Homo sapiens: one gene and its partners. The main gene of each other region encodes a partner of the protein of the gene in region 3 in a complex. Each region holds a gene or a part of one and is shown on either strand. Other genes may lie near its edges.

Region 1 (7,775 bases), on a different chromosome or scaffold from region 3:
AGATGTACAGATATCTATATATGCAAAAACATCAAACGTTCCTGACACAAAGCACGATACAAGTATATACTACTACTGTTGTTATTGTTATATTGCTATTATCTATCCTACTGATTCTAGTGGGATAGTTAAGCTGGAATCTCTCCAGAAAAATACACATAAGTAAAAGGTATTGAACACAACTGCAGAGGACCCAGGGATCCCAGATTAACCCTGCCAAAGATGATCCACAAGCAAGTTGGTTTAGTAAAGCAGTTCTTAACCTCTTCTGTGACACAGACCTCTTTAGTAGTCCAATTAATCTATGGATCTCTTCTCCGTTTTTTTACATTTCTAAAATATATAGGATCACAAAGTAAACCAATTATATTGAAACGCAGTTATCAAAATATTTTAAAATGTCTAATATAGCAATACGTTAACAATATTTTTGACATATAGCAAGTAATGAGCATAAATATTTCAAGATAACTGCAAAAGCTGTAATACATGTAAAAAAGTGATTTGTCTTGGTGACAAGGTCACATACACTGTTGCTGCCATTAACATTTAAAGAATTTTCACTTCTTTTCCATTTAGATTTCAGTTAGAAGCTAGAGAAAATAAACACGCAAATTTTTTTCCTCAACCAAGCTTAGGTACTTACTTCCTCAATTCTATCCAAAAACCTAGATTAAGAACCTTTGACTTATGGGAAAGTACAAAAATAATTTTGAAGCCAGAAATTTATGTTCTAGAAGTCAGACTTCAGACTTTAGCCCCCACATTATTTACACTTGAATGACCTTAGACATCTAACTTCTGAGCTTTGGTTCTCTCACTGAGAATAATTCCTCTATCATGAGGTTACAGGGATCAAATATTAGTTAACAAAACGCCAAACGACCAACATGTTGTTTTTCACTGATTTTAATACCACATATTCAGCCCCAAATATTTAAAGACAGTTAATTTTCAATAAAACTCATATGAGAAAATGAAGAATGACATAGTGACTCACAAAGAAAATGATTAATGGAGATACAACTTTTAAACACTAGTTTGGCGAGAGATACGATAGAATTTGTCTAACCTGGGGAGTCGGACAGGCCTGAATTGCTAACATCCCGTCCATGATTTGACATCAGCATGACCTGGATCTAAATCCCAGTTAAACTACTTTACTTTTACTAAGTAAAGTTACTTTAACCTCTGGGGCTCGGTTTTGTCATCTGTAAAACATATTAAGTATCGCTTTAGAGACAGGAGAAGACCTAGTTTAAACAATAAATGGAGCTGTTATTAAAACTTACATTTTAATAAAGCCAAAGGAATCAATTTGGAAGTCAAAAGTATATTGTGGAGTTCCTGTCAATATAAACTTCACAATCTTTCTTCTGCCCAGCAAAACACACACTTAAAACCTGTGGTATTTACATAGCATAACATTCCTTAAAAAAACTGGCTGGCACTGGCTTAAAATCTTATCTGATTTCTTATTCTGCCTAAGGAAAACAACAATGAGGACAGAAAACAGTAAACAGAATGAGTTCAGTAATTTTAAGTCTTTTCATGATTTCCCCGGAATGTTCCAATGAATGTTTATTATGAATGTTAGATACACTCTAATGTAGCAGTCTTTTAAAAAACTAATTTAAAGATATCAAGCTTATCGGCGACACAATATCAGTTAGTTTAAAGAGAAAAAAAAACCGTAAAATCATTTATTTACTTTATGCTGGAATATTACGGAGTAAGATTTTCCCACAACCCGGAAAAAAAAATCTGCCATAGGCTGGCCCCGGCTCCTAGATTCATTATACAACCCGTAAATTCCTTCCCTCATTGAAAAGATTCTTCTTATGGGCATAGTTAACAAATGCCAAGTTGCGAAGTTGCAGCTTTGCTGGTTTGACGTTTTCACAATGTAAGAACAATATGATCTGGAATCTACTCAAAGCATTAGCCAGGCAGTCAGCTGACGCTCACTGCACACAAGAGGACAGAATTAAGGGAAATTAAATTTCGTATTTCTGTAAGGCAGGTATCCAACTCTATCTTGAAAACTAAAATAGGCCAACAGCAGACGTTCTAGTTTAAGTAATAAAAGTGTCTCATTGTTCAAATAACATTACAAAAAACGGCTTTTCCCGGAATAAGTTTCCCTCATTCTTGGAATTTTCCTTGTAAAGGGCTTTTAATCGGTTCATAGAACCAACCCTTCATCACGCAGCTGCTGCTTGAGTAACTTTTACAAAAGGTCAAAGCGGTGCCTTTCAAGGCTTCCAAACCCTACTGGCTTCTCCTCGATTCAAAGTAACTCGCTTTCACCCACAGAACGTTCCAGAGACCTAGGGACGGGGCCCGGGCAGAATTTGGTGGAAGTTGCTCAAAAGAACTTTTCAATTTTCTTTTCAAAATACTTACCGCATTTCACCTTTCTCCATCCGTGGCCCCACATGTTGCTCGCCTCCCTCCCAGAGGGGCCCCGCGAGGCCGCGCTCGGCCCCCGGAACGCGCCCACCTGATTACCCTCTCCTCCCTCAGACTCCGCCCCCCAACCCCCCAATGCTGCCTCCTTTAGGAGGTCCATATGGGACACTTTCCCCTTCCTCTGAACCTCACCGCCACACCAGAACAGCCCTCCGTTTTTCTCCTTCAATTCTTCTCCACTACGGGCCTCACCTCCCATAGCTTCCTAGAGTGTTGTGAGCGCGCAGAGGGAAGCTGCAGGCCTGCTCGGCCCAGGTGCTGTGTCAGCCTATCTGCCGGTTCCGCGGCGTGTACGGCCCGGAAAGTCACATGGCGGTGGGACCGGCCGGCGCCTCTACACTCCTGCTCTCCTAAGAGCAGGACGAGACTAGCATAATGCACTCACCTCCACGAAAAGCAACATGTCGTCCTCTGCTCAGCCCAATCGTTCCCGCCGCCGCAACTCCAACTGGCTCACAGGCCCGCGCCCCAATTGCTAGGATAAGGACACACACTCGCCTTGCCCCTCCACCCGGCAGTGGACCCGGCTCCTCCCCTGCCGTCAGCCGCTGCGGCCTGACCCGCCCAGTCCCACCTCCCTTGAAACAACAACTGCTTCCGGGTCTAGGGAAAAATTGTTTCCGGGAGAAAAGAGAGCCCTCGGCGCGCTCAACTTTTGCACTATCTTTTCCAGCAGCAGTGTGGGATGTACTATCATCTGTCGGGGGGAACGATTAGAAGGAGACGCCATTCTGTGGCACGGGGATGTGTAAAAATCGTAATGACACATTTTATCACTTGTCAGATAGCTACACAGCACTGATAATTCCGCAGTTTTCATAGTTCACAATCTAGATTTGATTTTTAAAGCCGACCTTGGCGAAGTGTACTGAACAAACCAACCCTGCCGAAAAGTGGTGGCTCACAGAAGAAAAGTAGACAAGAAAAAAAAAACAAAAAACTATGATACTAGCAAATATGTTAATAGCAGCTAATGTATATTAAATGCTTACATTGTGTTTGGCACTATACTAAGCATTTTATGTTAATTGATCTTAAAACAATTCTATGCAATAAACACTATTATTATCATCCCCATTTTACAGTTGAAGAAGCCCTCTAGGAGGTCGGGTTTCCCTTTAAAGAACTTTGCCCCAGGCTCATTTGAATTAATTACCCATGTCACCGCTTAATATACCAGTAATAACACTTAATCTGGACAGTGTCTTCTTTGACGTTCTGTCATTAATTCAAACGAAATACAATAAAAACAAAATTTTTAAAATTATCTATAATTTTTGTTAGATGGTCCAAATTCCTTATTGTCTTTAGCAATATGTAGTAGGATAGATCGCTCCCACTTGTATGTCCTAGTTCAAACACTCATCTTTTGAAATAATCATGTCTTGGCTGGGAAGGGTGGCTCACGCCTATAATCCCAGCAATTTGGAAAGCTGAGGCGGGCGGATCACTTGCGGTCGGGAGTTCAAGACCAGCCTGGCCAACATGGTAAAACCCCATCTCTACTAAAAATACAAAAATTAGCCAAGTGTGGTGGTGCACACCTGTAATCCCAGCTACTCGGGAGGCTGAGGCAGGCGAATCGCTTAAACCCAGGAGGTGGAGTTAATAGTGAGCCAACATCGCGCCACTGCACTCCAGCCTGGGTGACAGAGTGAGACTCTGTCTCAAATATAGTAATAATAATAGTAACGAATAAAAATTGGCCGGACACCGTGGCTCACGCCTGTAATTCTAGCACTTTGGGAGGCCGAGGCGGGTGGATTGCCTTAGCTCAGGAGTTCAAGACCAGCCTGGGCAACATGGTGAAATGCCATCTCTAGTAAAATACAAAAAATTAGCCAGGCATGGCAGTGTGTGCCTGTAGTCCCAGCTACGTGGGAGGCTGAGGCAGGAGAATTGCTAGAACCTGGGAGGCAGAGGTTGCAGTGAGCCAAGATCACGCCACTGCACTCAAGCCTGGGTGACAGAGTGTGACTCTGTCTCTAAAAAATAATAATAATAAATAAAAATGAAATAATCATGTCTTGATCTTTTCCAATGGATTTTTCCATTCTATTATTTAAAAAATCTTCCCAAAGTGAAGGTTTCATTTTCACCAAACCACTGTTACTTGATTTCAAGACTTTGCCATTCTGATCTCATGAAATCCTCCTTGCTTTGCCGCAAATGGAATCTCCTCAGATACCAAATTAATTCCACCACCAAATTGCTGATATCTGTTATCTCAGGCCCACCCTAATGTGGTCCTCAGTAAATTCCCGTGAAGTCATCTCAGTGATTAAACCAATCTCCTTACTTTCCCCCTAAGATGCAAACTCATTAGCACTCACCGCCAAAGCCATGGCTCAAGGTGTTGCCCCTACCTGGATTGCCTCCATTTGTCAATCAACCTTCTCTCTCCATAAGGTTTTCTCAAAGATTCTGCTTCTACAGATCTCTTCTTCGTGTCCCTTATTAGCACTTGATTATTATATTCTATCTTAAATCTTTTCTTTTTTGTTTTAGTTTCTTCACAGGAACCCTATCATATATTCTTCAGTTTAGGATAATGTAAGCTGCATAGTGTTTCAACAAATGCTTGTCGAATTGAAAGGGAAGCAGGATTTAAAAATTGACTTTAAGAAGCCTTCATGGCCAGGCGTGGTGGCTCATGGCTGTAATCCCAGCACTTTGGGAGGCCACGAGGTCAGGAGATCGAGACTGTCCTGGCAAACACGGTGAAACTCTTTCTCTACTAAAAATACAAAAAATTAGCCGGGCGTGGTGGTGGGCGCCTGTAGTCCCAGCTACTTGGGAGGCTGAGGCAGGAGAATGGCGTGAACCTGGGAGGCGGAGCTTGCAGTGAGCCTAGATCGTGCCTCTGCACTCCAGCCTGGGTGACAGAGTGAGATTTTGTCTCAAAGAAAAGCCTTCATGTCTAGTTGCTGATTGATGAATTCCATGCTGCATAAAAGATGCAAGTGAGAGAGAAAGAATAATGCAAATTTAGTTTAGTTGACAACTAAACTTTGGGAGGCCGAGGTGAGTGAATCACTTGAGGAGTTTGAGACCAGCCTGGCCAACACAGTGAAACCCTATATCTACCAAAAATATAAAAAATTAGCCAGGTGTAGGCCGAGTGCAGTGGCTCACACCTGTAATCTCAGCACTTTGGGAGGCCAAGGCATGCAGATCACGAGGTCAGGAGATCGAGACCATCCTGGCTAACATGGTGAAACCCCGTCTCTACTAAAAAATACAAAAAACTAGCCGGGTGTGGTGGCGGGCGCCTGTAGTCCCAGCTACTCGGGAGGCTGAGGCAGGAGAATGGAGCAAACCTGGGAGGCGGAGCTTGCAGTGAGCCGAGATCATGCCACTGCACTCCAGCCTGGGCCACAGGCGAGATTCCGTCTCAAAAAAAAAAAAAAAAAAAATTAGCCAGGTGTGGTGGCGCATGCCTGTAATCCCAGCTACTCGGGAGGCTGAGGTAGAAGAATCGTTTGAACCTGGGAGGCAGAGGTTACAGTCTGCTGAGATGGCACTACTACACTCCAGCCTGGACAACAGAGTGAGACTCTGCCTCAAAAAAAAAAAAAGAAAGAAAGAAAGGAAGGAAGGAAGGAAGGAAGGAAGGAAGGAAGGAAGGAAGGAAGGAAGGAGAAAGAAAGAAAGAAAGAAAAAACAATACATACACCTGTAGTAAAACTATGTAAAAATAGATAACACAAATATGTAAAATTCATGATTGTCATTTCCTCTGGAATGGGACAGTGGGGAAGGAAGGAACCAGGGGTGGGGGACATCAAAGAGGACTTCAACCTTCTGTAATGCTTTTTTATTATTAAAAAAATTGGAAGCAAATATTAAACAAAAATTAGCCAGGCGTGGTGGCGCGCACCTGTAATTCCAGCTACTCAGGGAGGCTGAGGCACAAGAATCTCTTGAACCTGGGAGGCAGAGGTTGCCATGAACCAAGATCACACCACTGCACTCCAGCCTGGGTAACAAAGTGAGACTCTGTCTCCAAAAAAAAGGGAAAGAAAAGAAAAGAAAAGAAAAAAGAGTAAGCAGTGCAAAGAGTGTGATCCTCATCCAAATGATATCATCCAAGTTACTTCATCCAAATGATATCATCCAAGTTACTACATGTCTAGGAAAAGTTAAGGGGCAGCTGAGGAAGTAGTTGTAACCTTTATTCCATTACAGGCTTAAAAATACTTAAGCAAAACCCCAGGAAGAGAGAAGAACCAGGAGTTATATTTGACACACCTAGATTTTTTTTTTTTTTTTTTTGAGACAGTTTCACTCTTGTTGCCCAGGCTGGAGTGCAATGACGTGATCTCGGCTCACCACAACCTCCGCCTCCCGGGTTCAAGTGATTCTCCTGCCTCAGCCTCCCAAGTAGCTGGGACTACACGCATGTGCCACCTCACATGGCTAATTTTGTATTTTTTTTTTTTTAGTAGAGACGGGGTTTCTCCATGTTGGTCAGGCTGGTCTCGAACTCCGACCTCTGGTGATCCACCTGCCTCGGCCTCCCAAAGTGCTGGGATTACAGGCATGAGCCACTGCACCCGGCCAACACATCTAGATTTTAAGCTTATTTAAGCAGGGCTATATCTTCTGTTTATTTTAGCATTCCTGTTGTCTATTATTTCCTACCCTCCTTCCCCCCTCACCCTTCTACCATGGCAGCATATAGAATGACCAGTTCTCTGCACATAGTAAGCATTCTTTACATGTTTGATCAATGATAATGTCACAATGGGTCTATTGTGACATCAACAGGACGGGAATATCATGGGAGCCACCAATTAGTAGCAGAGTATGCCACAACTTCTAGGATCAGGAAAGACCTCTCCTAGCTTCCTACTGGATATCTTTATTAGCATTTTTGTAGATTCTGTGAAAAAGAAGAAATAAAACGAAATCACCCACATTTTCAAAATGTTCTTCAAAATGAAAAATGAGATAGACAATGACCCTGAATCAGAAAAATGCATCAAGGATTCCACCATCATGAGAAGAGAGCCCCAAAATATCCTTAGTCCTTTGATGCTCCCTAACCTTGAGATCCCATTCTCAGTAAAGGATATCATCTCTAGGATTGAGCGCGCACAGCTCCATCGAGCCAGAGAGGTAGGTAGTGAATCTGAAGTTTACAGACTGCAATTTTCTTTTTAAACTTTCTGTGACCAAGTACATTTTTGTTTATTTTAGAAATCACTTTCATGATATTTGACTGTATTTAGGGTAGCTTTGACTTCAAATGACAATTTCACCTGACACCGACTGTGGATATAACAAGCTCCAATTTGACA
Region 2 (7,196 bases), on a different chromosome or scaffold from region 3:
AAAAAATATGAAAGATTAGCTGGGTGTGGCACATGCCTGTGGTCCCAGCTACTAGGGAGGCTGAGGTATGAGGATCACTTTAGCCATGGAAGGCTGCAGTGAGCTGAGACTGAGACTGTACCACTGCACTCCAGTCTGAGCAACAGAGTGAGGCCCTGTCTGAAAAAATAAAAAATAAAAATAAAAAAAATAAAAAAGAAAGAAAAAAAACAAAAAAGTGTAAAAAAAAATTATTTCAGAACCCTAAGGATATATCATCTGGGAATCTGGGACTGAGGCTCTCTGAGGAATGTGGACTTTCTCCTTTTTATGAATGTTTCCGGTCAGGTGGGGTGGCTCACACCTGTAATCCCAGCATTCTGGGAGGCAGGAAGATCACTTGAGCTCAGAAGTTGGAGACCAGCCTGGGCAACACAGTGACATAGTGAAACCTTGTCTCTAATAATAAAAAATGTTTCAGTTACCAATTACCTCTCAAAGAGAAGTGCTGTCTTAATAACAAGTAATACTTTCAAGAGTATCAACAAAACAAAAACAAAAACACAAATACAAACACAAAATGTTACTCCAGGAATAAGATGGTAGGAACATCTCACTATGTTGCCAATACATCTATAAGACTAAAATTGTTCTGGCCGGGCGGGGTGGCTCATGCCTGTAATCCCAGCACTTTGGGAGGCCAAGGCGGGTGGATCACGAGGTCAGGAGATCAAGACCATCCTGGCTAACATGGTGAAACCCCGTCTCTACTAAAAACACAAAAAATTAGCCGGGCATGGCGGCAGGCGCCTGTAGTCCCAGCTACTCGGGAGGCTGAGGCAGGAGAATGGCGTGAACCCAGGTGGCAGAGCTTGCAGTGAGCCGAGATTGAGCCACTGCACTTCAGCCTGGGGGACCGAGCAAGACTCTGTCTCAAAAAAAAAAAAAAAAAAAAAAAAAAAAAAAAACTAAACTAAAATTGTTCTAAAAAAAATTTTTTTTTTGAGATGGAGTCTCACTCTGTCTCCCCGGCTGGAGTGCAATGGCACGATCTCAGCTCATTGCAACCTCTGCCTCCCAGGTTCAAGTGATTCTCCTGCCTCTGCCTCCCGAGTAGCTGGGACAGGCACATGTCACCACACCCCGCTGTTTTGTATTTTTAGTAGAGACGGGGTTTCACCATGTTGGCCAGGCTGGTCTCGAACTCCTGACCTCAAGTGATCCTCCCAAAGTGCTTAGCCTCCCAAAGTGCTGAGCTACCCCGCCTGGTCCTAAAAAAATTTTTTAAAGGTTTACTTAAAAATGATAGCCAACTCTCCTGGAACTCCTTTGAGGATAAGCCCTGGGACCCTAGTTTTGGAAACGCTGCCCCGCTTTGTTCTGTTCAGGACAAAGTTGGCTACCAATGCTTGCCCAGTGAATAGGTTTTGCTTATGATCTGGGGTTCTGTTGAGCTGAGTGTCTGCCTTGAACTCTGAAACCCCCGCTGAAATACCCTCCTTCCCCTCTCATCTGGTCCAAGAAGACCCAGGCTCTGCACCAGCAAAAAGAGACGGCACCCTCGGACAGCAGACACAACTCCTTTAGTCCACGTTTTCAAAGTCGAGGTGCAGGGAAAACCCAGTGTGAACGGACTGCTCCTCGGGCTTTCCTTTAATCGGGCCGTTTCCAAAGTGGCAAAAAATTCACACAGGACCCAAGCTAGCTAGAGGCCTCCTGAGGGGTTCCCCAGGGCATCAGTGCAAGAAGCCCTGAAAGACAAAGCCAAATGACACAGAGTAGCAAAATGTGAACAAGGAATCAAAGAGAAGAGATAAGAAGGAGTAACAAGAAGAAGAATGAACTACAAAGACTGGGAGCGGGGGTGGGGGGTGCTGGCAAACGCATTTGTGATTTTCTTTTCCCCCCAGTGAAATGTCAGTTTTGAAAGCAGCTTCGGAAAATGTAACCAGCTTCTCACATCCCCCAAAAGAAGATGGGAGGAGGCTGTTAGCTCTTACTTCGAAGCCCGGCATCAGGAAGGGGCCCGTCCCGTCCACGTTTCCACGAGGAGCTCACCCTGCGGCTCCCACCGTCCCCGCATGGGCCCTCTCCCCAGATCCTGAAGTTTCCCATTCGGGGGTCCTGAACGCCACACCTCGCACAGCGGTGGAACTCGGTACTCGCGGGCGCCCCAGACCAGCAAACACTTTCCAACCGTCCTGAGCTATCCAGGGGGTCCCCAGAGGGATCCCGGGCCGCCCACGCCCCACCCTCCTCCCTGCAGAGGCGGCCACGCCCGCCCCCGAGACGCCCACCTCTCCCGCACCCCGGACCTCCCTCCCCCACGCTTAAGCCCACCACGCCTGGCGTCCTCCAAATTCCCCTTCCACTCAGAGCCCCCCACTTCCTGCTCACCCACCCCTCCCAAATCTCAGGCCCTTCACTCCCCATTTCGCGCTCCCTTGCTCACTCTGGGCACCTTGCCCCTCCGGCCACCACGCACGCCCTCTTTTCTCTGTCTGTCCCCTGGCACCGGCCCTCCACGGTCGCTCCCTGCAGGCCACCGGCTCAGTCCCGGGGACCCCACGCCAGGCCCCCGCGCTCAGGGCCCCTCCCCGCCGGCCCCCGCCCCGGGCCGGCCTCGTGAGCAGCCCCGGCCCTGCGCCTGCCCCGGGGCCCCGTACTCACGGCTGTAGAGGGCGATGCCCGCCGAGTCCGGGCCGGCGCGCACCTCGAGGCGCAGCGCCTGCTGCTCCGCGTGCCGCTGGATCTCGCCGTTCGCGTCGCCGATGGTGAGGAGGCGGGCGCCGGGGAACACCGACACGGTAGCGCAGGGCCCCGCGCCGCCCGGGACCGCCGACCCCGCGCCGCCCGCGCCCGGCCCCACCGCCGCCGCCGCCGCTGCCATCTTAGATCCGGCTCCAGGCCCCGCCGCCGCCGCCGCTGCGCCCGGGCCCAGGCCGCCGCCGCTGCCGCCGCCGCCGCCGCCGCCGCCGCCGCCGCCGCCGCCGCCGCCGCCGCTGCCGCTACCGCCGCCGCAGCCGCCGTGCAGGCCGAGGCCGAGCCGGGCAGCGCCGCCTGCCGGCCACGCGCCGCCTCGCCGCCGCCGCCGCCACCGTCGCCGCGGCCCGGCCCCGTGGCGCAGCGCCCTCTGCCGGCCGTCCTGGGCGCGGGGAGCTAGCGAGCGAACGAGAGGGCACCCCGTGGGGCGGGACCGGCTACGCCCCGCCCCGCGAGAACGGTCGCCGCTTTGTGAGGTGGCTCCACCGCCCGGGAACTGCGGGGCGGGAGGGTACGTCGGGGGCGGTGCTCGGGCGCGCGGGCACGCCCCTCGGAGGCCTGGGCCCCGCCCCCAGGCCGGCGCCTCATTAACGGCTGCTTTCGAGTGAGGCGGTGCGGGGACGGCGGGGGCGGTGCTCGGCCGCGTGGACACGCCCTGTACCCCGCCCCACACAAGCAGCCGCGCGTCGTGATGCGGCTTCCCTGCCCCGACCTGGACACGCCCCTGAGACTGGGCCCCACCCCCCCGGGCCCGCCCGGCTTTGTGAGGCAGCCCTCAGGGAGGCGTGGCCCAGCCGCGACGAGGCCCCGCCCCCGTGCCTGCCCGCGCCCTCCCACCCGGACTCGCTTTGTCAGCCGCCCCGCTCTGGGGAATGGGCGGGGGAAAGGGCGTGGCCAGCGCCCGGGCCTCGCCCCCAACCCTTCCCCCCACCGCCCCCGCACCGACGATTTCCGATGAGCCCTGGCCTCCAGGAGCAACCTGAGCCCGGTTGAAAGGACCCCTCCCCGACATTCGACCGCTCCTCCTCCCTTCCCCATCATCTCTGCCCACATTGCCTTCTTAATCCTTAATGTTTGACTGTCTCCTTTCGCACAAGATATCCTTTGACCCCCTCCTCTCTCAGCCCCTCCTCCAACGATGCTGAGTCCAGCCTGGCCCGGCGCAGGGCCCCTCTCCCGCCACACAAACCCGTCTTCTCTCTGCATCCCCCTTCATTTTGGGTGGCCCCATCTCTTTTGGGCGACCCAGTGAGCTTGGGCCACTTCCTAGCACTCCAGCTTTAACTCTTCCCTAGACCTCATTTACGCCTCATTCCTTTTTTTTTTTTTTTTTTTTCTTTGAGACGGAGTCTCGCTCTGTCTCCCAGGCTGGAGTGCAATGGCTCGATCTCAGCTCACCGCAACCTCCGCCTCCCGGGTTCAAGTGATTCTCCTGCCTCAGCCTCCCGAGTAGCTGGGACTACAGGCATGCTCTACCACGCCCAGCTAATTTTTTATTTTTAGTAGAGACGAGGTTTCACCATGTTGGTCAGGCTGGTCTTGAACTCCTGACTTCAGGTGATCCGCCCGCCTCGGCATCCCAAAGTGCTGGGCCTACAGGCATGAGCCACCGCGCCCGGCCCCTTTTGTTTTTTGAGACAGGGTCTCACTGTGTTGCCCAGGCTAGAGTGCAGTGGTGCCATCATAGCTTACTGCAGCCTCAACCTCCTGGGCTCAAGCAACCCCCTGCCTCGGCCTCCCAAAGTGCTGGGATTATAGGTGTGAGCCACTGCGAGGGGCCCTCATTCTCCTTCATGTCCCTCACCCGTAGCCCCTGTCATTCCACCTCCTAAACCCTCTAATGCAAGTACCGTTGCAGAGACCCTGGCATGGCACTGCTGCACTCCCCACACCCCCAGGAGGCTCCGCATACACCACCCTGACTGCCCTTGAGAGATGCTTCAAATTTGGTGAATTCAGACACGCTCCACCCCCCAGCCATCCAACCATGGGATCCAGAGGTCCCCAGCTTGAAGGATTCCACTCCATAGAGGCCTGGGAACACCTTGACCCGTGTTATAATTAATAACTTAAGCAAGCCAGCAGGCAGACACACAACACACCCAAGGGCACCCTATGCTCAAAAACCCACTGGGGAAGGGAGGAATTCCACGGGTGTGCAGAGACCTGGGACGTCTTATGGCCCAGCTGGGGGACAAGAAGGGGTCCTGACATCTCCTTCTCTGGTGGTCCTGAGGAGCCGAAGGTCGAGAGGGGAACTTCCTGTTGTCTGTATAGTGCCAGGCCCATGCCTGTGTCCCCTCTCCCACTCCTCTGTGATGAAAATCCCAAGGCCAGGGTTCCCCTTCCTTTCCTCTGTCCAATTCCCTGAGAAAGTGGCTGACAGAGCCCCCCCAGAAGTAGCTGGAGGGACCTCAGGCCCCCGAATGCCTGGAGACAGAGGGGTCCCCCAGTCCTCAGCCTCACTGGCAGGCCCGGAAAGTGCTGAATTCGGGGGTCTCAGGCGAGGAGGACGTGGAAGTGGGCCTCTTCCGGGTCCTGGAGTTGCTGGGGGTGGCAGTGGTGCCTGAGTGATCATCCAAGGTGGCCGGGTCTTCTTCTGGCATCGTTTTCTTTGTCCATGTAAGAAGAAACACAGAAGTGGGTGATTTGGGGTTTCAGGATCTAGGGTTTCTCCATGTTCTGAGCCTGAGACTCTGCCAGCCCAGCAGGTCTCCTCTCATCCCGCCCCCACCCACACCCACCTGTCCTGGTCTTCCCTTCTCCTGCCTTCCTCTCTGCTAAACTGGGGACCAGAGAGCATGGATTCAAACACCAGTTCCTTCACTTTATAGCAGTGTAACCTCAGTTGTGTGGCTTCACCCCTCTATACCTCAGTTTCCCCTTCTGCAAAACGGGCAGAATGCTAGTACCCACCACTTCCTAGGGCTGCTATGAGGCTTAAAAGAGTAAAACTGATAAAGCAAATGGCACATCGTAAGCTCTTCTTTGCTAAGTGAACACAACCATTCATATTATCTCCTCTGTTGGGCCCAGTGGCTCACGCCTGTAATCCCAGCACTTTGGGAGACCGAGGTGGGTGGATCACCTCAGGTCAGGAGTTCGAGACCAGCCTGGCCAACATGGTGAAACCCTCTCAGAAAAATACAAAAATTAGGTGTGGTGGTGCACGCCTGTAATCCCAGCTACTCGGGAGGCTGAGGCAGGAGAATCACCTGAACCCAGGAGGTGAAGGTTGCAGTGAGCTGAGATCCTGCCACTCCTCTCCAGCCTGGGGAACAAAGTGAGACTTGGTCTCAAAAAAATAAATAAATAAAAAATAAATAGTATTATCTCCTCCTCCCCTCCCATTTGCCCATGGGCAAAACATTCCTCAAAAGTCTACCTCCTCCTCTGCCTTGGAGGCTCCTGACCCTGATCCTAGTTAAAGAGAGATGAATTTGCTAGAACTAAAGCCACTCAGTTGACAGCAGGCTGGGGGTTCCACCCACAGTCCTGTCCCTCCCAAGCTGGGTGACCCTAGGCCCATTATCAGCCTCAGTGTCCTTGTTCGTAAAAAGAAAATAATCGATCCCACCTGAAAGGGTGTTACAAAGTTGCATATCAGACACTCAGCAAGGTAATGGGGAAAGCTAGAGACAGGTCAGCTGCTGCCTTACCATTTCAGCCAACGACAAAGCAGTATAAGGCTTCAAAAGGAAACTAGAAGTGAAAGCAGAGACTCCAAAAGAAATTTGCATACCCATGGTCATGGCACGGTTCTGCACAACAGCCAAAAGGTGGAAACAACCCAAGTGTCCATCAACAATTGAATGGATCAACAAAACTTGGTGTATCCATACAACACAATATGATTCAGCCTTAAAAAGGAAGAACAGGCTGGGCACGGTGGCTCACACCTGTAATCCCAGCACTTTGGGAGGTCGAGGCGGGCGGATCACCTGAGGTCAGGAGTTCAAGACCAGCCTGGCCAACATGGTGAAACCCCATCTCTACTAAAACTACAAAAATTAGCCGGGCATGGTGGCAGGCGCCTGTAATCCCAGCTACTTGGGAAGCTGAGGCAGGAGAATCGCTGGAGGCTGGGAGGCAGAGGTGGCAGTGAGCCGAGATCACACCACTGCACTGCAGTCTGGGCGACAGAGTGAGACACTGTCTCAAAAAAAAAAAAAAAAAAAAAAAAAAAAAGAATGTTCTTCCTTTTTTTTTTCTGAGATGGAGTTTCGCTCTTGTTGCCCAGGCTGGAATGCAATGGCGTGATCTCAGCTCACAGCAACTCCGCCTCCTGGGTTCAAGTGATTCTCCTGCCTAAGCCTCCCGAGTAGCTGGTATTACAGGCATGTGCCACCATGCCCGGCTAATTTTTTTTTTTTTTTTTTGTAGTTTTAGTAGAGATGGGGTTTCTCCGTGTTGGTCAGGCTAGTCTCGAATTCCCAACCTCAGGTGATCTGCCC
Region 3 (7,245 bases):
GTCTGATTGCTCGCCATTTTCTCAGAACTAATGTCAGCTTACAACATCTGACACACAATCTAGAAACAGGACCCCATTTCAAACTCATATAAATTCCTTTCTTCATTCTTGGTTGGTATGAGAAAAATATGCAATGCGTATGGAAGAAAACATAAACTCTAAGTGAGTCTCATTATAGGAATTCCTCTGATCATGGGCATGACAATTTGCAAATCTGAGTAGGTGTTATGTTCCTCACCAACCTGGCAAACCAATTAAGTGGGAAGCTCATCTTCTGAAACATTGCATAGTTTTGATTTTATCACAGACATCATATAATATTTTTTCTATTTCAAGGATCTACAGAAAGTATACCCCTTCAATTGAGAGGGATCTGTTCTCAACGAATACACTTATTATCCATTTCAAATAAATCTCTCTATATTACCTAAAGATCTTAAAAGGCCAGGTTATCTTACATACATTACACAAGATACTATAAATTATCCTGGATATATTCTGAATGTATCCTGGATATAACCTGAAAATTACTTATAAATTGCTAGTGAAGTTCAAGTGAATAAGCTCTCTGGAGAACTTTACAGTTTACTCATTAAATAAAAACAGGTTAATTGAATGACTTTAATGTCATTAGATATTCTTAGGCACCCACAGTGAGATGCTGCACATATAAAGACATTATTCTGTCCCACAGCTTGCAATCTAAAATTAGATAAACACAGGCAAGCCAGATAAACATAGACAGCACATTTTTTAAGACAAAAAAAAATGATAGGAGAGAAAAATGAGAGTAGTGAATCAAAAAGGCAAAAGGAATCAACAAATATTTCATCTTCTGCCTTTTATTCGTAGCCTTAATTACCTCTATCACAAGCAATCAGACTGCTAACATCAAAAAGGGGTCTCAGAACATTAGTGGGATTACCACCATACAGCGTCCTCAGCTTTGGAGGTCCAGAAACTCCTGTTGTCCAGGAGTCCTTGCTTGTCCCTGCTTGCCTGATTTGGGGTACTAAAAGTCCACTACTTCCAGCACTAGAAATGAGAGCCCAACCAGCATGTCAGGAAGCGCTCCCCGAAACAGCTTGTGGAGCTGAGAGGTAACATGCTGCAGCAGGCCAAGCAGTCTGGAGGTGAACACGGCCCTAGGTGCCCATGTGACCATCAGGTTGAGACCTCCCAACTAACCCTCATCCTATATGGTCAGTCTACAAGGCCTAGCTGGCCCTCTCCCTGAAGTTAGGTTTAAAAAGAAAAAATACACCCTCAGTGTGCCAGGCTTCACGGTAGATGGTTGGGATGCAGATAAACATGACATAAGCCTTCTTTTGGCGCTTACAACTTATTTTGGGAGATCGCTCATAAACACACTATTTTGATATAACGTAGTAAATGTAGTGGCAGGGTTGGCGGGGGGCAGGGGAAAAACCAAAGGAAGGGTGCCCAATCCTACCTGGTGGTCAGGGAATGGTAAGTTACTGGCGGAGAGGAGGAAGAATCTGAGAGGCAGAACCAGGAAAGTGTAGCCCAGACGCCAAGAGAGTGTGTGACAAAAGAGAGGGAGGAAAACAGTGTCAAACTCTGCAGATGTCCAGTAAAATGGACCTGAAGAAAGTCCATTGGATTTGTCAAATAGAACAGGGATCATTGGCAACTGTTGATGGGGCAATTTGAGTGCAGCTGGAAGTCATACGGTAGTGTTGAGGAACTAAGGAGAGAGAAAGCAGAAATGAAAAGCTTGGCTATGAAAAAAAAGTGAATGAGAGAGGAATATGTCATTAAGAGAAGATTGGTTTGTTTTCTTTTTGATCTGAATTGACCAGTTTCTGATCTGAGCGAAAGCAGCTGGCTGGAAATAAAAAGAGGTGATTGATGGATCAAGGGAACAGGTTCTTGGTTTCAGTTCCAGATCCCACTCCTGTTTCCTCCTGGGCTCTGACTCTCTCTCCTATTCTATTAAATAGCAGCTCCTTGTCCTCAGGTATGGACTTTGCTTCTACTTTCCCTTGCACATACTCAACTGTACCTCCATAAAATATGACAATGACATCTACTAAGTGCAAGAGCCACAGCTGCATAGACGTCCTGATGACTGGCTCCCTTCCCAAACTATGTATTCACCTACAAAGCACTAATATACTTTTCTAGTGATGAGAATGCTTCCATTTACCATCCAGGGCATCACTGCCTGTCAAGCTGCCCTGGAAGCCTAACAACTGTTTATTTTTTATTTATTTGAGTCTCGTTCTGTCACCAGGCTGGAGTGCAGTGACGCAATCCTGGCTCACTGCAACCTCCGCCTCCCGGGTTCAAGCGATTCTCCTGCCTCAGGCTCCCGAGTAGCTGGGACTATAGGCGCGCGCCACCACGCCCAGCTAATTTTTGTATTTTTAGTAGAGACGGGGTTTCACCATGTTGGCCAGGATGGTCTCGATCTCTTGACCTCGTGATCTGCCCCCCTTGGCTTCTCAAAGTGCTGGGATTACAGGCGTGAGCCACCGCGCCTGGCTACTTTTTGTATTTTTAGTAGAGACGGGGTTTCACCATGTTGGCCAGGCTGGTCTCGAACTCCTGACCTCAAGTGATCAGCGTGCGTCAGCCTCCCAAAGTGCTGGAATTACAGGAGTGAGCCACCGCGCCCGGTCACATTTTATCCTCTTTTTAATAGGAGCAAAATAGTATTTATGTGGGATTCCACTGGTTTAAATTCTAATTAAATGAGACAAGATATAAAGTACTTAATTCCACACCTAGCAATACAGTTGACATCCATTAAAGTTTATTGAATTAAGGAATAAATTGGGCAATCATTTAACTTCTTTGAGACTGTTCCTGTAACAGTAAAGTAAAATTATTACTACTTGCTCCACCTCCCACACCAGATTGCTCTCAGGAACAAATGATAGTATGTTTACGCGAGTGCTTTAAAAACTGTAAAAGCACTTTACTACTTTCGAGTGGAATTTGTATGTTGATTTAATGTCATTCCTAGAGCCGGTTTTTATTACTATCAATTCGTTAAATTTAGCATTCCTATTAAAACCCACTACTAATGTGCAGAATTGTTTTAGTTATTTATAAGGACGTTGTTTTAGACTATTCCTAATTTTGTCTGGTTGCAGGGCTGTGGTGCCATATAGTAGTGATTGTGACAAACCCGTACTTTCAGGAAAAACATTCACTTTTCTCCACTCCTGGTTTCTATCGCCAAGAAATGTCTGGCAGAAGCAGCACAAATCAATGATTCCAGCCTAGCACCTTAAGGTAAGAAGTGACCAAAGACCCCCAACACAGCTATCCCAAATTAAAGCCACTTTGACCAACGACAACGTCCAGTGAAGACACGGAGGAGGGTCGGGCTGGAAAAGAAGAGGACGAGGAACCCGAGGGGCCCTCCCCTCTCTCTCCCTGCCCCCCAACCCCGCGCCGGGAGCTCCAGCGGTGCCGGGGTCCAGCGCGCAGGACGGTTGGGGGGTCCCGGAGCGGGCGGCCAGGACCCGCGCAGCCAGTTGGTGTCAGCGAGCGCCGCGGCCGTTGGGGACTCCAGCTCCCAGCAGGCACCGCTTCTGCGGCCGACGCGCGTGGCGGCGGTGCCGGCTGGGACTCGTAGTGCGGTCCGGGTAGGAGAGAGCAGGGGGCCACGCTGGCTCCATCTACGCACGTTTCGGAAACCGGGCCCGGAGGGGACCACGCCCGCTCACCCGTGCCCGGCGTCCCCCGGAGCTGGGGCTAGAGGAGCCGGGCCGGCCGCAGCGGGAAGAGGCCACAGGCGGCCGCGCACGTGGGGGGTGGTTAGCGCGGAGGAACCCGGAAGCCCTTTGCACCGCCCACCGCCGCGGTGACGGGTTAACGCTCCTCCTGGTGGAGGCAGGGGCGGGCGGGGCGGAAGGCGGGGACGCCTCAGCCAACACCCCCGAGGACCGCCCGCGAGCCGTCCTCCCCACCCCCACGGACGCGACGCAGCGCGGGCTCCGCTTCCCCGGCCGCGGCGCCTGCGCAAAAGCCCCGCCCCTTCGCCCGAGCCCCACCCCCACACCGCAGCCTCCACCGCCGCCACCTCTCCCTTCCTCTCTGCTCTTTCCTCCTGTTTTCTCTTCCCTCCTCCCCCTGGCCTCCGCGTCTCCTCCTACTCCGGCGCTGACGCTCGCGTAGGGGCCCTGGCGTCAGACGCGCGGGGGCGGGGCGAGTGCGGCGCGGGGTATAAGTAGAGGGTGCAGGAGGCGGTGCTTCCCCTTCTCCCCGGCGGTTAGTGCTGAGAGTGCGGAGTGTGTGCTCCGGGCTCGGAACACACATTTATTATTAAAAAATCCAAAAAAAATCTAAAAAAATCTTTTAAAAAACCCCAAAAAAATTTACAAAAAATCCGCGTCTCCCCCGCCGGAGACTTTTATTTTTTTTCTTCCTCTTTTATAAAATAACCCGGTGAAGCAGCCGAGACCGACCCGCCCGCCCGCGGCCCCGCAGCAGCTCCAAGAAGGAACCAAGAGACCGAGGCCTTCCCGCTGCCCGGACCCGACACCGCCACCCTCGCTCCCCGCCGGCAGCCGGCAGCCAGCGGCAGTGGATCGACCCCGTTCTGCGGCCGTTGAGTAGTTTTCAATTCCGGTTGATTTTTGTCCCTCTGCGCTTGCTCCCCGCTCCCCTCCCCCCGGCTCCGGCCCCCAGCCCCGGCACTCGCTCTCCTCCTCTCACGGAAAGGTCGCGGCCTGTGGCCCTGCGGGCAGCCGTGCCGAGATGAACCCCAGTGCCCCCAGCTACCCCATGGCCTCGCTCTACGTGGGGGACCTCCACCCCGACGTGACCGAGGCGATGCTCTACGAGAAGTTCAGCCCGGCCGGGCCCATCCTCTCCATCCGGGTCTGCAGGGACATGATCACCCGCCGCTCCTTGGGCTACGCGTATGTGAACTTCCAGCAGCCGGCGGACGGTGAGCGCCGGGCTCCGCGGTCGGCCGGGCGGGCGGGCGGCCATGAGGCTCGGGCGGCGGCGGCGGGCGGGGTAGGCCGGCGGGCCCGGGGAGGGGGGCGGGAGGGCATGTCACCCCGCGACGGCCGGCGGGAAGGCGCCGGGGTCCCTGGAGCCGCGTTTCCCGAGCCGGCGGGGACCCGCGCTGCCGGCAGCCACACGCCCGGCTACTTCCTCCTTTGCGACCATTTTCTCGGCCTCAGACGCTCTCAAACTTTAGGGTGATGACGCGCCGGGAGGGTGGGTGAGATTCGGTTCCTCCGCGGCGCTCCCGCCAGTGGCCCCGGGATTCTGGGGCGTTGAACGCTGAGCTCCTTCCGTGGGTAAGAGGTGGAGGCGCTCCCACCACCCGGAGCTCCTGCCGGCGCCCCAGCCTGGGGAGGAAGTGCAGTTCTGTGCTCGAAAAATACCACGTGTTGAACCCTGTAACCTCGCAGGCCCGAGGCCTGCTTCTGCTCCTGCTCCTGGCCCAGTCGCCTGGGGGAGCCACCAGGCCTTAGGATAAAGTTCCTGTGGCGATGTGTGGTGTGGTGGTGGTCCTCAGGCTTGTGAGTCCACTTCCCAGAACTCATCAGTGACTGATGGATCTAGGAATGGAATTTACCGGAGACATGCATTTGGGGTTTCCCCTAGATCAAGCATTTCTCTAACATTAAAAGGGCAGAGTGGGAGGAGGGGATGTGGCAGCCGACCACTTTGAAGGCCAGTTTTCTCAGGCAACTTAGACCATTTTTAGTCAAATTTTATCTTAGATTCACAGTACTGGTGGTTTTCGAGTATATTATGTTACCTTCTGAAATAGTTCCTGTCGTTTTGAGGGGCTTTTCTTTATAAAATAGTCAACTTTGGCTATAAAATGTTACTTTAGTGTAATTCCAACTGGACCAGTCTTATCTGTAGCATGCAAGAAGTTCAAGTTTCTCTTTTATTTTTAAAAGTGGCCCATGATACCTGTAAATCTTGGGAAATGACTGAGTACAAAATAACGGAGATTAAATTGAGCTTGAAATTTATGGGGGAAATGCAGCTAACTTTGTGCTTTTATTTTGAAGCTAAACAGTTAACAGAAACACAATTTTGTAAACAGATAATATCTGTGGTCTGTTGAGTTGCTAGGATTTGTCTTTAGATCAATTGGCTTTGAGAAGTCAGCTTAATTCCATTTTACGGCCCAATTTTGCCTTTTTCCCCCCCTACAGGCTGGCCACTTGAATACATGTCAAATAATCGAAATATGAAGAATTCATTTTTATTAGAAAAGGCCTTAAGGGTGGAATTTAAGCTCCTATTAACATTCATTCAGTAGAACTTAGGTTACTGATCAGCTCTTCACTGTGTAAAGTTGATACTGATTTTGGAAGCAGAATATTGAGTGACACAGAGCCAGAAGTTGTAAAACTGCACTGCAGGTTTCCTGCCCTTTTGCTCTGTAAGCAGTAACTCCAAATGTCACTTCATAACAGTTCTTGTCAACCTTAGGCAGGATGTATCAATGCATGTCAGATGGGGGTAGATAACTTTGGGGCAGGTTATCACAACCTAAGAGTTGGTGGAGAAAACATGGGAATGAATTCTAGAGACCACAAAATGAAAACTTGAAAGTGTTACTCTTTCTCAGCTTAACGTTTTTAAATCCAAAAAACAATTTTTACATTTCTTGGGATTCGAAGAGTTGAACTTCAGGTTGCCGTGGTTACAGTGTACAGTATATATTATCAGTCTGTACCAGTAGACCAGTACCCTAACTACTGAAAAGAATATGGCAGTTTTCCATTTGTCTAGTTTCTGTATGTACAATTTACTATCCAATTAATTACTTAAGTGGATTTCTTGTTCTTTTTTAAAAACTTATTGCTACATTGATAGGCAGAATAGCTTCTGAAAGTGACCAGTTTTCAATTTCATAGGAAGAGGTGACTCATTGAAAAATAGCTCAAGCAAAGTCAGCTAAAAAAAAAAAAAAACTAGGGAAGCTGAGTAGGTGTGGTCAATTGATAATGAGCTAACAGCTGATTATCACTATATTCTAGAAACTGGAACTTTCATTTATAAAAAAAGAGGTGGCCGGAAAATTCATCCTGTCAATAACTTTTAAATTTACATTGGCATGGAATTTGTAGGAATTGTTTCAGGGCTTAAAAGGGACCGTTTTCCCTCTCTTCGGGGACTAGTCTTTTTATTTAAGGATGTGTTATTTCATTTAGAGCCTTTAATGGTACAGGTATACATAATTCAATCCTTTATAGATCCTGAAATTAATTGTAGATTTTGAAATTTTCT
Region 4 (7,019 bases), on a different chromosome or scaffold from region 3:
GAACAAGAGGTAATTTATTTTTTCTTTGTTAAAAATTGTTTACAAAGTCAACCTAAACTGGCTGCGTGGAAACCATTCAGTACCCATAGCTTTTCCCTTTGTCTTGAAAAGGAAAACTGTCAAAACCAGTTTTGTGAAGCAAGTTACTTTCCCAGAGTTTTCTCACCTTATCAATAAAGATTACAAATACTTAATAACAAAATGATAAACTTTTACAGTCCATTTAAAAAATCTATGTTAGTAACAATATCTGACACTGTAGTTCACTTATGAAGGCAGTGACAGGATTATTGTGCCTAGTTTAGTTACCTTGTAGGAACTATGACTGACAATAAGCTCCAAGAAGAGGATTTCTTCTTTTTCTCCTCTGTGTGAAGCAAATGGGTCAAGTCAGGGGCAAAGAGAGCAAGGAAAAATCAGTTATTTGAAGCTGTCAGTCTCATTGGAAATAGAAAACAAGTCCGGTGCTTTCTATATTGTGGTTTTAATGGGGGAATTTTTTCCTCACATTAGTACTTCTCTGATACGTATAATGGAAATTACAAGAATAATGGACTTAAAAACAATTCATTTTATTTTCAGTTGGAGGTTGTGTGTGTGTGTGTGTGTGTGTGTGTGTGTGTGTATTTAAAGATCCTTTTCAAAGTTGTAGTATTAAAAAAAAAATTACAGAGACAATTTGGGTAAAATCAGTGCTTTCTTAGTAAAAAACCTATAAGACAAGGTGAGGCTCTCTCTCCCCTCTTTGGGCTGCCAGTATGCTGTGAATCAGATTACACCTATGTTGCTTAAACATATTAAATTTGATAAAAATCGTTGAAAATAAAACTATCAGTTTTTTCAAACTGGGAGACTTAGTATGAAAAGATGGTGTATATTCTAGCCTCTTCAATAGTCAGGAACAGTTTCTTTATTGTAGAAAGAGCATTGGGACATTGTCCTTGCCTCTTGCTGTGGACAACCAAACTGACAAATGGTTATTTTGTTTGACTATTTAAAAAGCAAAGCAATGTGAGATTATAAAAGATATGTCTTTAATTAGATGTCGGACTGAATATGAAGTTAAAGATCAAGCTGCAAAAGGGGATGAAGTTACTCGAAAACGATTTCATGCATTTGTACTCTTTCTGGGAGAACTTTATCTTAACCTGGAGGTGAGAAGTTTTTCTTTTGTTAAGTACTAACAAGGCCTGAGAACATAAGTTGATCTCAATGAGGAATTTGTGTTCACATTGTACTTTTACAACATTAAGAGTGAAATGAAAGAGAGAGGAAAGAAAACATGTTTCGGCACCTGCTAGTGTCTGTGGTTTACTGGACCGTCTGTCCATAACATTTACTCATGGACAGAATGTTAGGAAATAATTACTGAGGTAAAAATCTGCGTACTTTTAGGAAGCTGTGGTTTACATGCAAATTTAAGTTCTTGAGATATCAACAGTGATACCTTTTTGAGTTCTTACATCTTATATATTAATACATTTAGTATGTTGACTTTCAGATGGTGGCTCAAAGCAGTTTACTCTGCAGAACTCTGAGTGAAAAGAGAGACTAGAGTCTCTCTAGGCTTTTCACTCTAATTCACCCAAATAGTTTTTTAAAAATATTTTTTTAATTGACAAAAATTATATCTTTATGGTACACAACACTTTGATATATGCATACATCGTAGAATGGCTAAATCAAGCTATTTAACATATGCATTACTTGACATACTTTTTTGTGTTAAGAACACTTAAAATTTTTAGCAGTTTTCATGTATACAATATATTGTTAACTATAGTCATCATGGTGTACAAGAGATCTCTTGAACTTATTCCCCCTAAATGAAATTCTGTGTCCTTTGACCAACATCTCCCCAATACCCCAACCCCTAAGAATAGTTCTTTTTTGTCCTATTTTATATATTAATCTTCCACATAAAAATGCATTTGTACAAAGTCTACAGCTAAACGTATTTATAAATTTGGGTGGTATACTTAAGTATATGCTTGTTAGTAGGCAATAGAAGTGCTGGATTCAGCACGGCATTATTACTGTGTAATAGATTTGCTTGATTTTTTTTTTTTTTTTTTTTTTTTGGGTGGGGACAGTCTCGCTCTGTCACCCAGGCTGGAGTGCAGTGACGTGATCTCGGCTCACTACAACCTCCGCCTCCCGGGTTCAAGCGATTCTCCTGCTTCAGCCTTCTGAGCAGCTGGGATTACAGGCACGTACCACTATGCCTGGCTAATGTTTATATTTTTAGCAGAGATGGGGTTTCACCATGTTGGCCACGCTGGTCTCAAACTCCTGACCTCAGGTGCTACCCGCCTCAGCCTCCCAGAGTGCTGGGATTACAGGCATGAGCCACCATGCCCAGCCTCTGCTTGATTTTTTAAATTAGTGAATATCAGATATAAGCTTATACCTTCTTACACCCTGATTTGAGAACTTAAGATCGTAAACGCCATAATATCAGAAACATCATAAGACAATGTGAATCTATCAAATGTGCATCTCAGTCATTGTATCTAAAAGGTCTATGTCCAGTCCAGAGCCTAACTTACTATGCCTTTTTACCACAGGTAGACTTAGTTTTTTGAAAAATCTTATGCCATGTTCTTTTTCAGTCTAATTTTTGTTTAAGCCAAAATATGGACAGCAATCTAAAATAAATACTGTTGAGCATTTTCTATATGGAGATAATGATGCTAGGTCAATGGGGGATGTAAAGATAAGGCTTAGTTCCTGCACCTAAAATTCTTCTACACAGTGATATAAGATACATATACCACTCTGATGCAAAATACCATATTTTAAAATATTTTAAAAGCAGAATAAAATGCTGTGTGTTCAAAAAAAAGTGGTAGTTGAACAAACTAAAGAAAGCTTTATGAAGTAGTAACATCAAAGTGGGCTTAAATTATGCTGACTCTGGTATTAAATTTTACCCATAGCTTACCAGTTTTATTAGAGGTCTTAGTTACATATAAAGTAATTCTAACAAATTCTGTGAAGATATCAGAGTGTGTTCCTGTGACTTTTGTGATTTAGCTAAAATGCTTATTTTGCCAACACCTTGTTAGTTCATTTATGTATCTGTATTATATTTTGGCATCATTCCTTTTGTTCTTTTTTTTGGTCCCGAAAGATCAAGGGAACAAATGGACAGGTTACAAGAGCAGATATTCTTCAGGTTGGTCTTCGAGAATTGCTGAATGCCCTGTTTTCTAATCCTATGGATGACAATTTAATTTGTGCAGTAAAATTGTTAAAGGTAGGTTTTTTTTTTTAATTTAACTAATTTACGTATTTACTTATGATTTAGAGGAAGGTTAGTCTATATAGTATACAGATGAATTCAAGATTTATCACTTTAAGGTAAATATTGACATTTTACTTTTTTCTCGAATATTTTGGAAAAGCGAGATATACTTATTGTTTAATATATGAAGCAAGTTCAGAAGTGAAAAATGGAAGTCCTTTACGCCATTTCCATTTGCAAATTCTGTCTTCTTCCCTTCTTATCTCTGTATATGTGCTCTTATTAAATAAGATCTTACTCTGTTCTGGCTTTTTGTTTTTGTTTTTGCCACCTAATGAAACATCTTAGATTTTTCCATGGCACAGAGATTTACCTCTTTTATTGAATAACTTCCTAGTATTCTGTCATATGCATATGCATTGTTTATCCATTCCGTAACATCTATCAATGTTTACTAATGAATATTTGGATTATCTTCAGTTTAGCCATGGCAGCATTGCTTGTAATCTTTCCTCTTGTCATATATATGTGCAGATACTTTTGTAGGTTAAATTCTTAAACACGGATTTGGTGGGTGGACGAGCATATGTATTTTACGACAAGTAATGGCTAATTTGCCTTCCAAATGCTGAACCAGAGTATAGCCCCATCAGCAGAATGAGTACATCTCTTCCTACATCCTTATAGTGATGGATATAATCAATCTTGGTTTTTGTTTTGTCAGATGATTTTAAGCATTTCTTCATGTTTATTAGCCATTTGTTTATTATTTCCTATAAATTACCTGTTTAAATCCTTAACTGATTTATTTCCTGATGAAATGCATGTTTGTGTTTTTTTTTTTTATTCAAAGCTTCTATACTTGTTGCTTGCTGTATATTTCAAAAAAAGTGACATGTTCATTAAAATCTAATAGCCTATCTTAGTCATACAGGGAATATAACAGTCGTTGACATAAAACCCATGATTAAAGTTCTGCTATTGTTTTTTTTGTTTTAGTTTCTCTCAGTCAAGAGAAATATAGAGGGCGTAGAGATCACTGAATATTAGATGGTAGACAGAATAATTAGGAATATTAAACTTGCTAAATTCATCTTGTTTAGAGAATGCTTGAACTGTTACTGGTATCTTTTTAGAATTTCTATAATACACTATTGAATTTCTTATTTTACTGACACCTGCTTTTTTAGTTGACAGGATCAGTTTTGGAAGATGCTTGGAAGGAAAAAGGAAAGATGGATATGGAAGAAATTATTCAGAGAATTGAAAACGTTGTCCTAGATGCAAACTGCAGTAGGTAGGAAAAGAAGTAATGTAAATAGCCAGTGCATCTCAATTTCTTGCTTTTTCTTTGGAGATTGTTTTTTAATTTGCTATACTTCAGCAGGGTAAGTTGATGGCTAACGGATATACAAAAATGCTTTTCTTTAAAGGAATAATATTTTACCTATAGTTTCTGCTCACTAGACATTTTTGTGATAGACGTGTCAGATATTTTTGCTCAATTACATTTAGAAATTGAAAAAGCTAATTTTCTTAAGATATGAATTAAATGAAAAACAAAATCCAAATATTAACTGTCCAACAAATAAAAGTACTACTGTAAGTATAGTAGGACACATAAAAATGTTTGAAGGATAGCCACTGCCTTTAAGGTCCATATAGTCATAGTTACGTGGAACATAATTCAAGGCTATTTTTTTTTTAAATGAATTTATGTCATATAGGAAACGTCTAGAAAGTCAAGGCATCAGATGTACCTGTTAAATTAAGGAAATAAAGTTTTGGGAATCTGAGATATTTTAGGGTCTGACAGCCCTTATGGTGGATACACTAACTCATTTTCAACTTTGTCTACAGAGATGTAAAACAGATGCTCTTGAAGCTTGTAGAACTCCGGTCAAGTAACTGGGGCAGAGTCCATGCAACTTCAACATATAGAGAAGCAACACCAGAAAATGATCCTAACTACTTTATGGTATGCCAGTGTTTATATTTTAAGTTTTACTTATTGCTTGAATTCCGTTTTGGAAATTAGAAGAGCTACATAAAGCTGTTCTCAGAATTCAGTGCCTAATAACTGTCTTCACTGGCTTTGAGTGACATGGCAGCCATCAGACTGGGTAAAAAAGAAAAGAGACCTGGAATTCTCCAGTGAAAGGGTGGACTAGAGAAAGATATATCCAATGGCAAGAGAGATTGACAAGGCTTGGACTTAAGTGAGCACAGGGATGCCAGGAAGCAGCTTTTCCAGAGAATTTATAACCAAGGACCTGCATCTCAGACTTTTACTTTGCATGTTGTAGTAACGAAAAATAAAATAAAATTGGTTGGCTGGGCGTAGTGGCTCACACCTGTAATCCCAGCGCTTTGGGAGGCCAAGGTGGGCAGATCACCTGAGGTCAGGAGTTCAAGACCAGCCTGACCAACGTGGAGAAACCCCGTCTCTACTAAAACTACAAAGTCAGCTGGGCGTGGCAGTACTTGCCTGTAATCCCAGCTACTCGGGAGGCTGAGGCAGGAGAATTGCTTGAAGCCTGGAGGCAGAGGTTGTGGTGAGCTGAAATCACGCCATTGCACTCCAGCCCAGGCAACAAGAGCACAACTCTGTCTCAGGGAAAAAAAAAAAATGGCTACTAGGCCAGTGATGCCCTGAAGCTCCTGACATGAACAAACATAAAGCAGCTGTGGAGAAATGTTCCTCCAGCCCTGGTCCTGGAAATTCTTAAAAGAAATGGTGGGGTTGGAAACCACAGCTAAAAATGCACTGACACTAAATGACAATGCACAACAGAACAGTTCACTGAAAGACAATAGACAGCACCGTTAGAACCACAAGAACTTGAGATAATGGCATGGAAATCTGAAAACCATAGACTTTCTCAGTGAAGTGAAAATGGCTACCAGGAAGTTAGGTTCCTTTGCTTGTTCTTGCATTATTAGGTGCAGACGGGTGACATCAGCCATGCTTCATTATTGTACTTACAAAAATCAATTCTGAAATGATTACATATTTTTATCACTTTGATTCATCCTAGAATGAACCAACATTTTATACATCTGATGGTGTTCCTTTCACTGCAGCTGATCCAGGTATGTTGTCTCACAGTCATTCCCTCCTCCCAGTTGTTTGGTAAAGTAGTAAATTTACAGAAAACCACATCCTCACCAGCACAAGATTGTAACTTTTTGATGTCTTCACATCATTCTAAAATACCAGTGTAATGGTTTGTCTAATATAGAATGCTCTTCATAGTGACCACTTGAAACATTTCAAATGAAAGTATGATTCCACATATAATGTCTTGTCACTTAACAACAGAGGATGGGAAGAATTCTCAATTAAATGCAACTATTTTAATTTTATATTTCCTCTAACTTTTTTATAATCTTAAATTTTCAGGTGATTAGAATGGAGGGGAAAGACGATTCTAGTTCACTGCATAGTCAGCAACATATATTAATATGGGTTAATACTTTACACGAAGAATTACACATTTCATTCATACTTGGTGTGTGACAGTTAATTAAAATCCAAATCTCTGCACATTTCCTCTTCCAGAAGAGGACCATTTATAGAAAGATTGCCTTAATTGTATTAGATGGAACTGTAGAGTGAGGAAGAGAAATTTTTCCCTTTGGTACAAACTGCAACCAGCTTATGGTTGGAATTTTTCCATTTGTTTCCTCTGGATTCCAAGCATTGACTGTCCTGTGTCTCTAGCACAGAGAAGTTTTTTTAGGGCAAGGAAGTAGAATTAAGTTACACGCT

The links.
Region 1: the proteins of PABPC1 (region 3) and LARP4 are in contact, whole or in part, in a crystal structure (PDB 3PKN), measured with the Homo sapiens proteins. Residues at the interface, in NP_001425211.1 of Homo sapiens: Gln560, Gly563, Glu564, Phe567, Pro568, Gly579, Lys580, Thr582, Gly583, Met584, Leu585, Leu586, Glu587, Lys606, Glu609, Ala610, Val613, Leu614, His617; in NP_443111.4 of Homo sapiens: Leu15, Asn16, Pro17, Asn18, Ala19, Lys20, Val21, Trp22, Glu24, Ile25.
Region 2: the proteins of PABPC1 (region 3) and CARM1 are in contact, whole or in part, in a crystal structure (PDB 5DX8), measured with the Homo sapiens proteins. Residues at the interface, in NP_001425211.1 of Homo sapiens: Gly452, Ala453, Ile454, Arg455, Pro456, Ala457, Ala458, Pro459; in NP_954592.1 of Homo sapiens: Gln148, Tyr149, Phe152, Tyr153, Asn161, Met162, Asp165, Glu257, Pro258, Met259, Gly260, Tyr261, Asn265, Glu266, Met268, Val340, Leu412, Thr413, His414, Trp415, Tyr416, Lys470, Pro472, Phe474, Tyr476.
Region 4: the proteins of PABPC1 (region 3) and PAIP1 are in contact, whole or in part, in an NMR structure (PDB 1JH4), measured with the Homo sapiens proteins. Residues at the interface, in NP_001425211.1 of Homo sapiens: Pro555, Gln556, Gln558, Lys559, Gln560, Met561, Gly563, Glu564, Gly579, Lys580, Thr582, Gly583, Met584, Leu585, Leu586, Glu587, Asn590, Leu593, Ser605, Lys606, Glu609, Ala610, Ala612, Val613, Leu614, His617, Gln618; in NP_006442.2 of Homo sapiens: Ser126, Lys127, Leu128, Ser129, Val130, Asn131, Ala132, Pro133, Glu134, Phe135, Tyr136, Pro137, Ser138, Gly139, Tyr140, Ser141, Ser142, Tyr144.

What each region holds. Positions count from the first base shown.
Region 1 is NC_000012.12:50,396,111-50,403,885, reverse strand, and holds the start of LARP4 (la-related protein 4), read right to left. Parts: upstream 3,002-7,775; 5' UTR 2,876-3,001; coding exon 2,858-2,875; intron 2,738-2,857; exon of another isoform or gene 2,605-2,737; intron 2,480-2,604; exon of another isoform or gene 2,407-2,479; intron 1,212-2,406; exon of another isoform or gene 1,115-1,211; coding exon of another isoform or gene 1,073-1,114; intron 1-1,072. Other genes in the region: protein FAM186A, read left to right, coding at 7,402-7,593. UniProt on the Homo sapiens protein: RNA binding protein that binds to the poly-A tract of mRNA molecules. Associates with the 40S ribosomal subunit and with polysomes. Plays a role in the regulation of mRNA translation.
Region 2 is NC_000019.10:10,867,376-10,874,571, reverse strand, and holds the start of CARM1 (histone-arginine methyltransferase CARM1), read right to left. Parts: upstream 3,020-7,196; 5' UTR 2,870-3,019; coding exon 2,650-2,869; intron 2,144-2,649; exon of another isoform or gene 2,095-2,143; coding exon of another isoform or gene 1,980-2,094; intron 1-1,979. Other genes in the region: C19orf38 (protein HIDE1 precursor), read right to left, coding at 5,205-5,354. UniProt on the Homo sapiens protein: Methylates (mono- and asymmetric dimethylation) the guanidino nitrogens of arginyl residues in several proteins involved in DNA packaging, transcription regulation, pre-mRNA splicing, and mRNA stability.
Region 3 is NC_000008.11:100,719,073-100,726,317, reverse strand, and holds the start of PABPC1 (polyadenylate-binding protein 1), read left to right. Parts: upstream 1-4,229; 5' UTR 4,230-4,734; coding exon 4,735-4,927; intron 4,928-7,245. UniProt on the Homo sapiens protein: Binds the poly(A) tail of mRNA, including that of its own transcript, and regulates processes of mRNA metabolism such as pre-mRNA splicing and mRNA stability.
Region 4 is NC_000005.10:43,533,059-43,540,077, reverse strand, and holds part of PAIP1 (polyadenylate-binding protein-interacting protein 1), read left to right. Parts: intron 1-1,042; coding exon 1,043-1,154; intron 1,155-3,133; coding exon 3,134-3,259; intron 3,260-4,437; coding exon 4,438-4,544; intron 4,545-5,107; coding exon 5,108-5,225; intron 5,226-6,285; coding exon 6,286-6,340; intron 6,341-7,019. UniProt on the Homo sapiens protein: Acts as a coactivator in the regulation of translation initiation of poly(A)-containing mRNAs. Its stimulatory activity on translation is mediated via its action on PABPC1. Competes with PAIP2 for binding to PABPC1.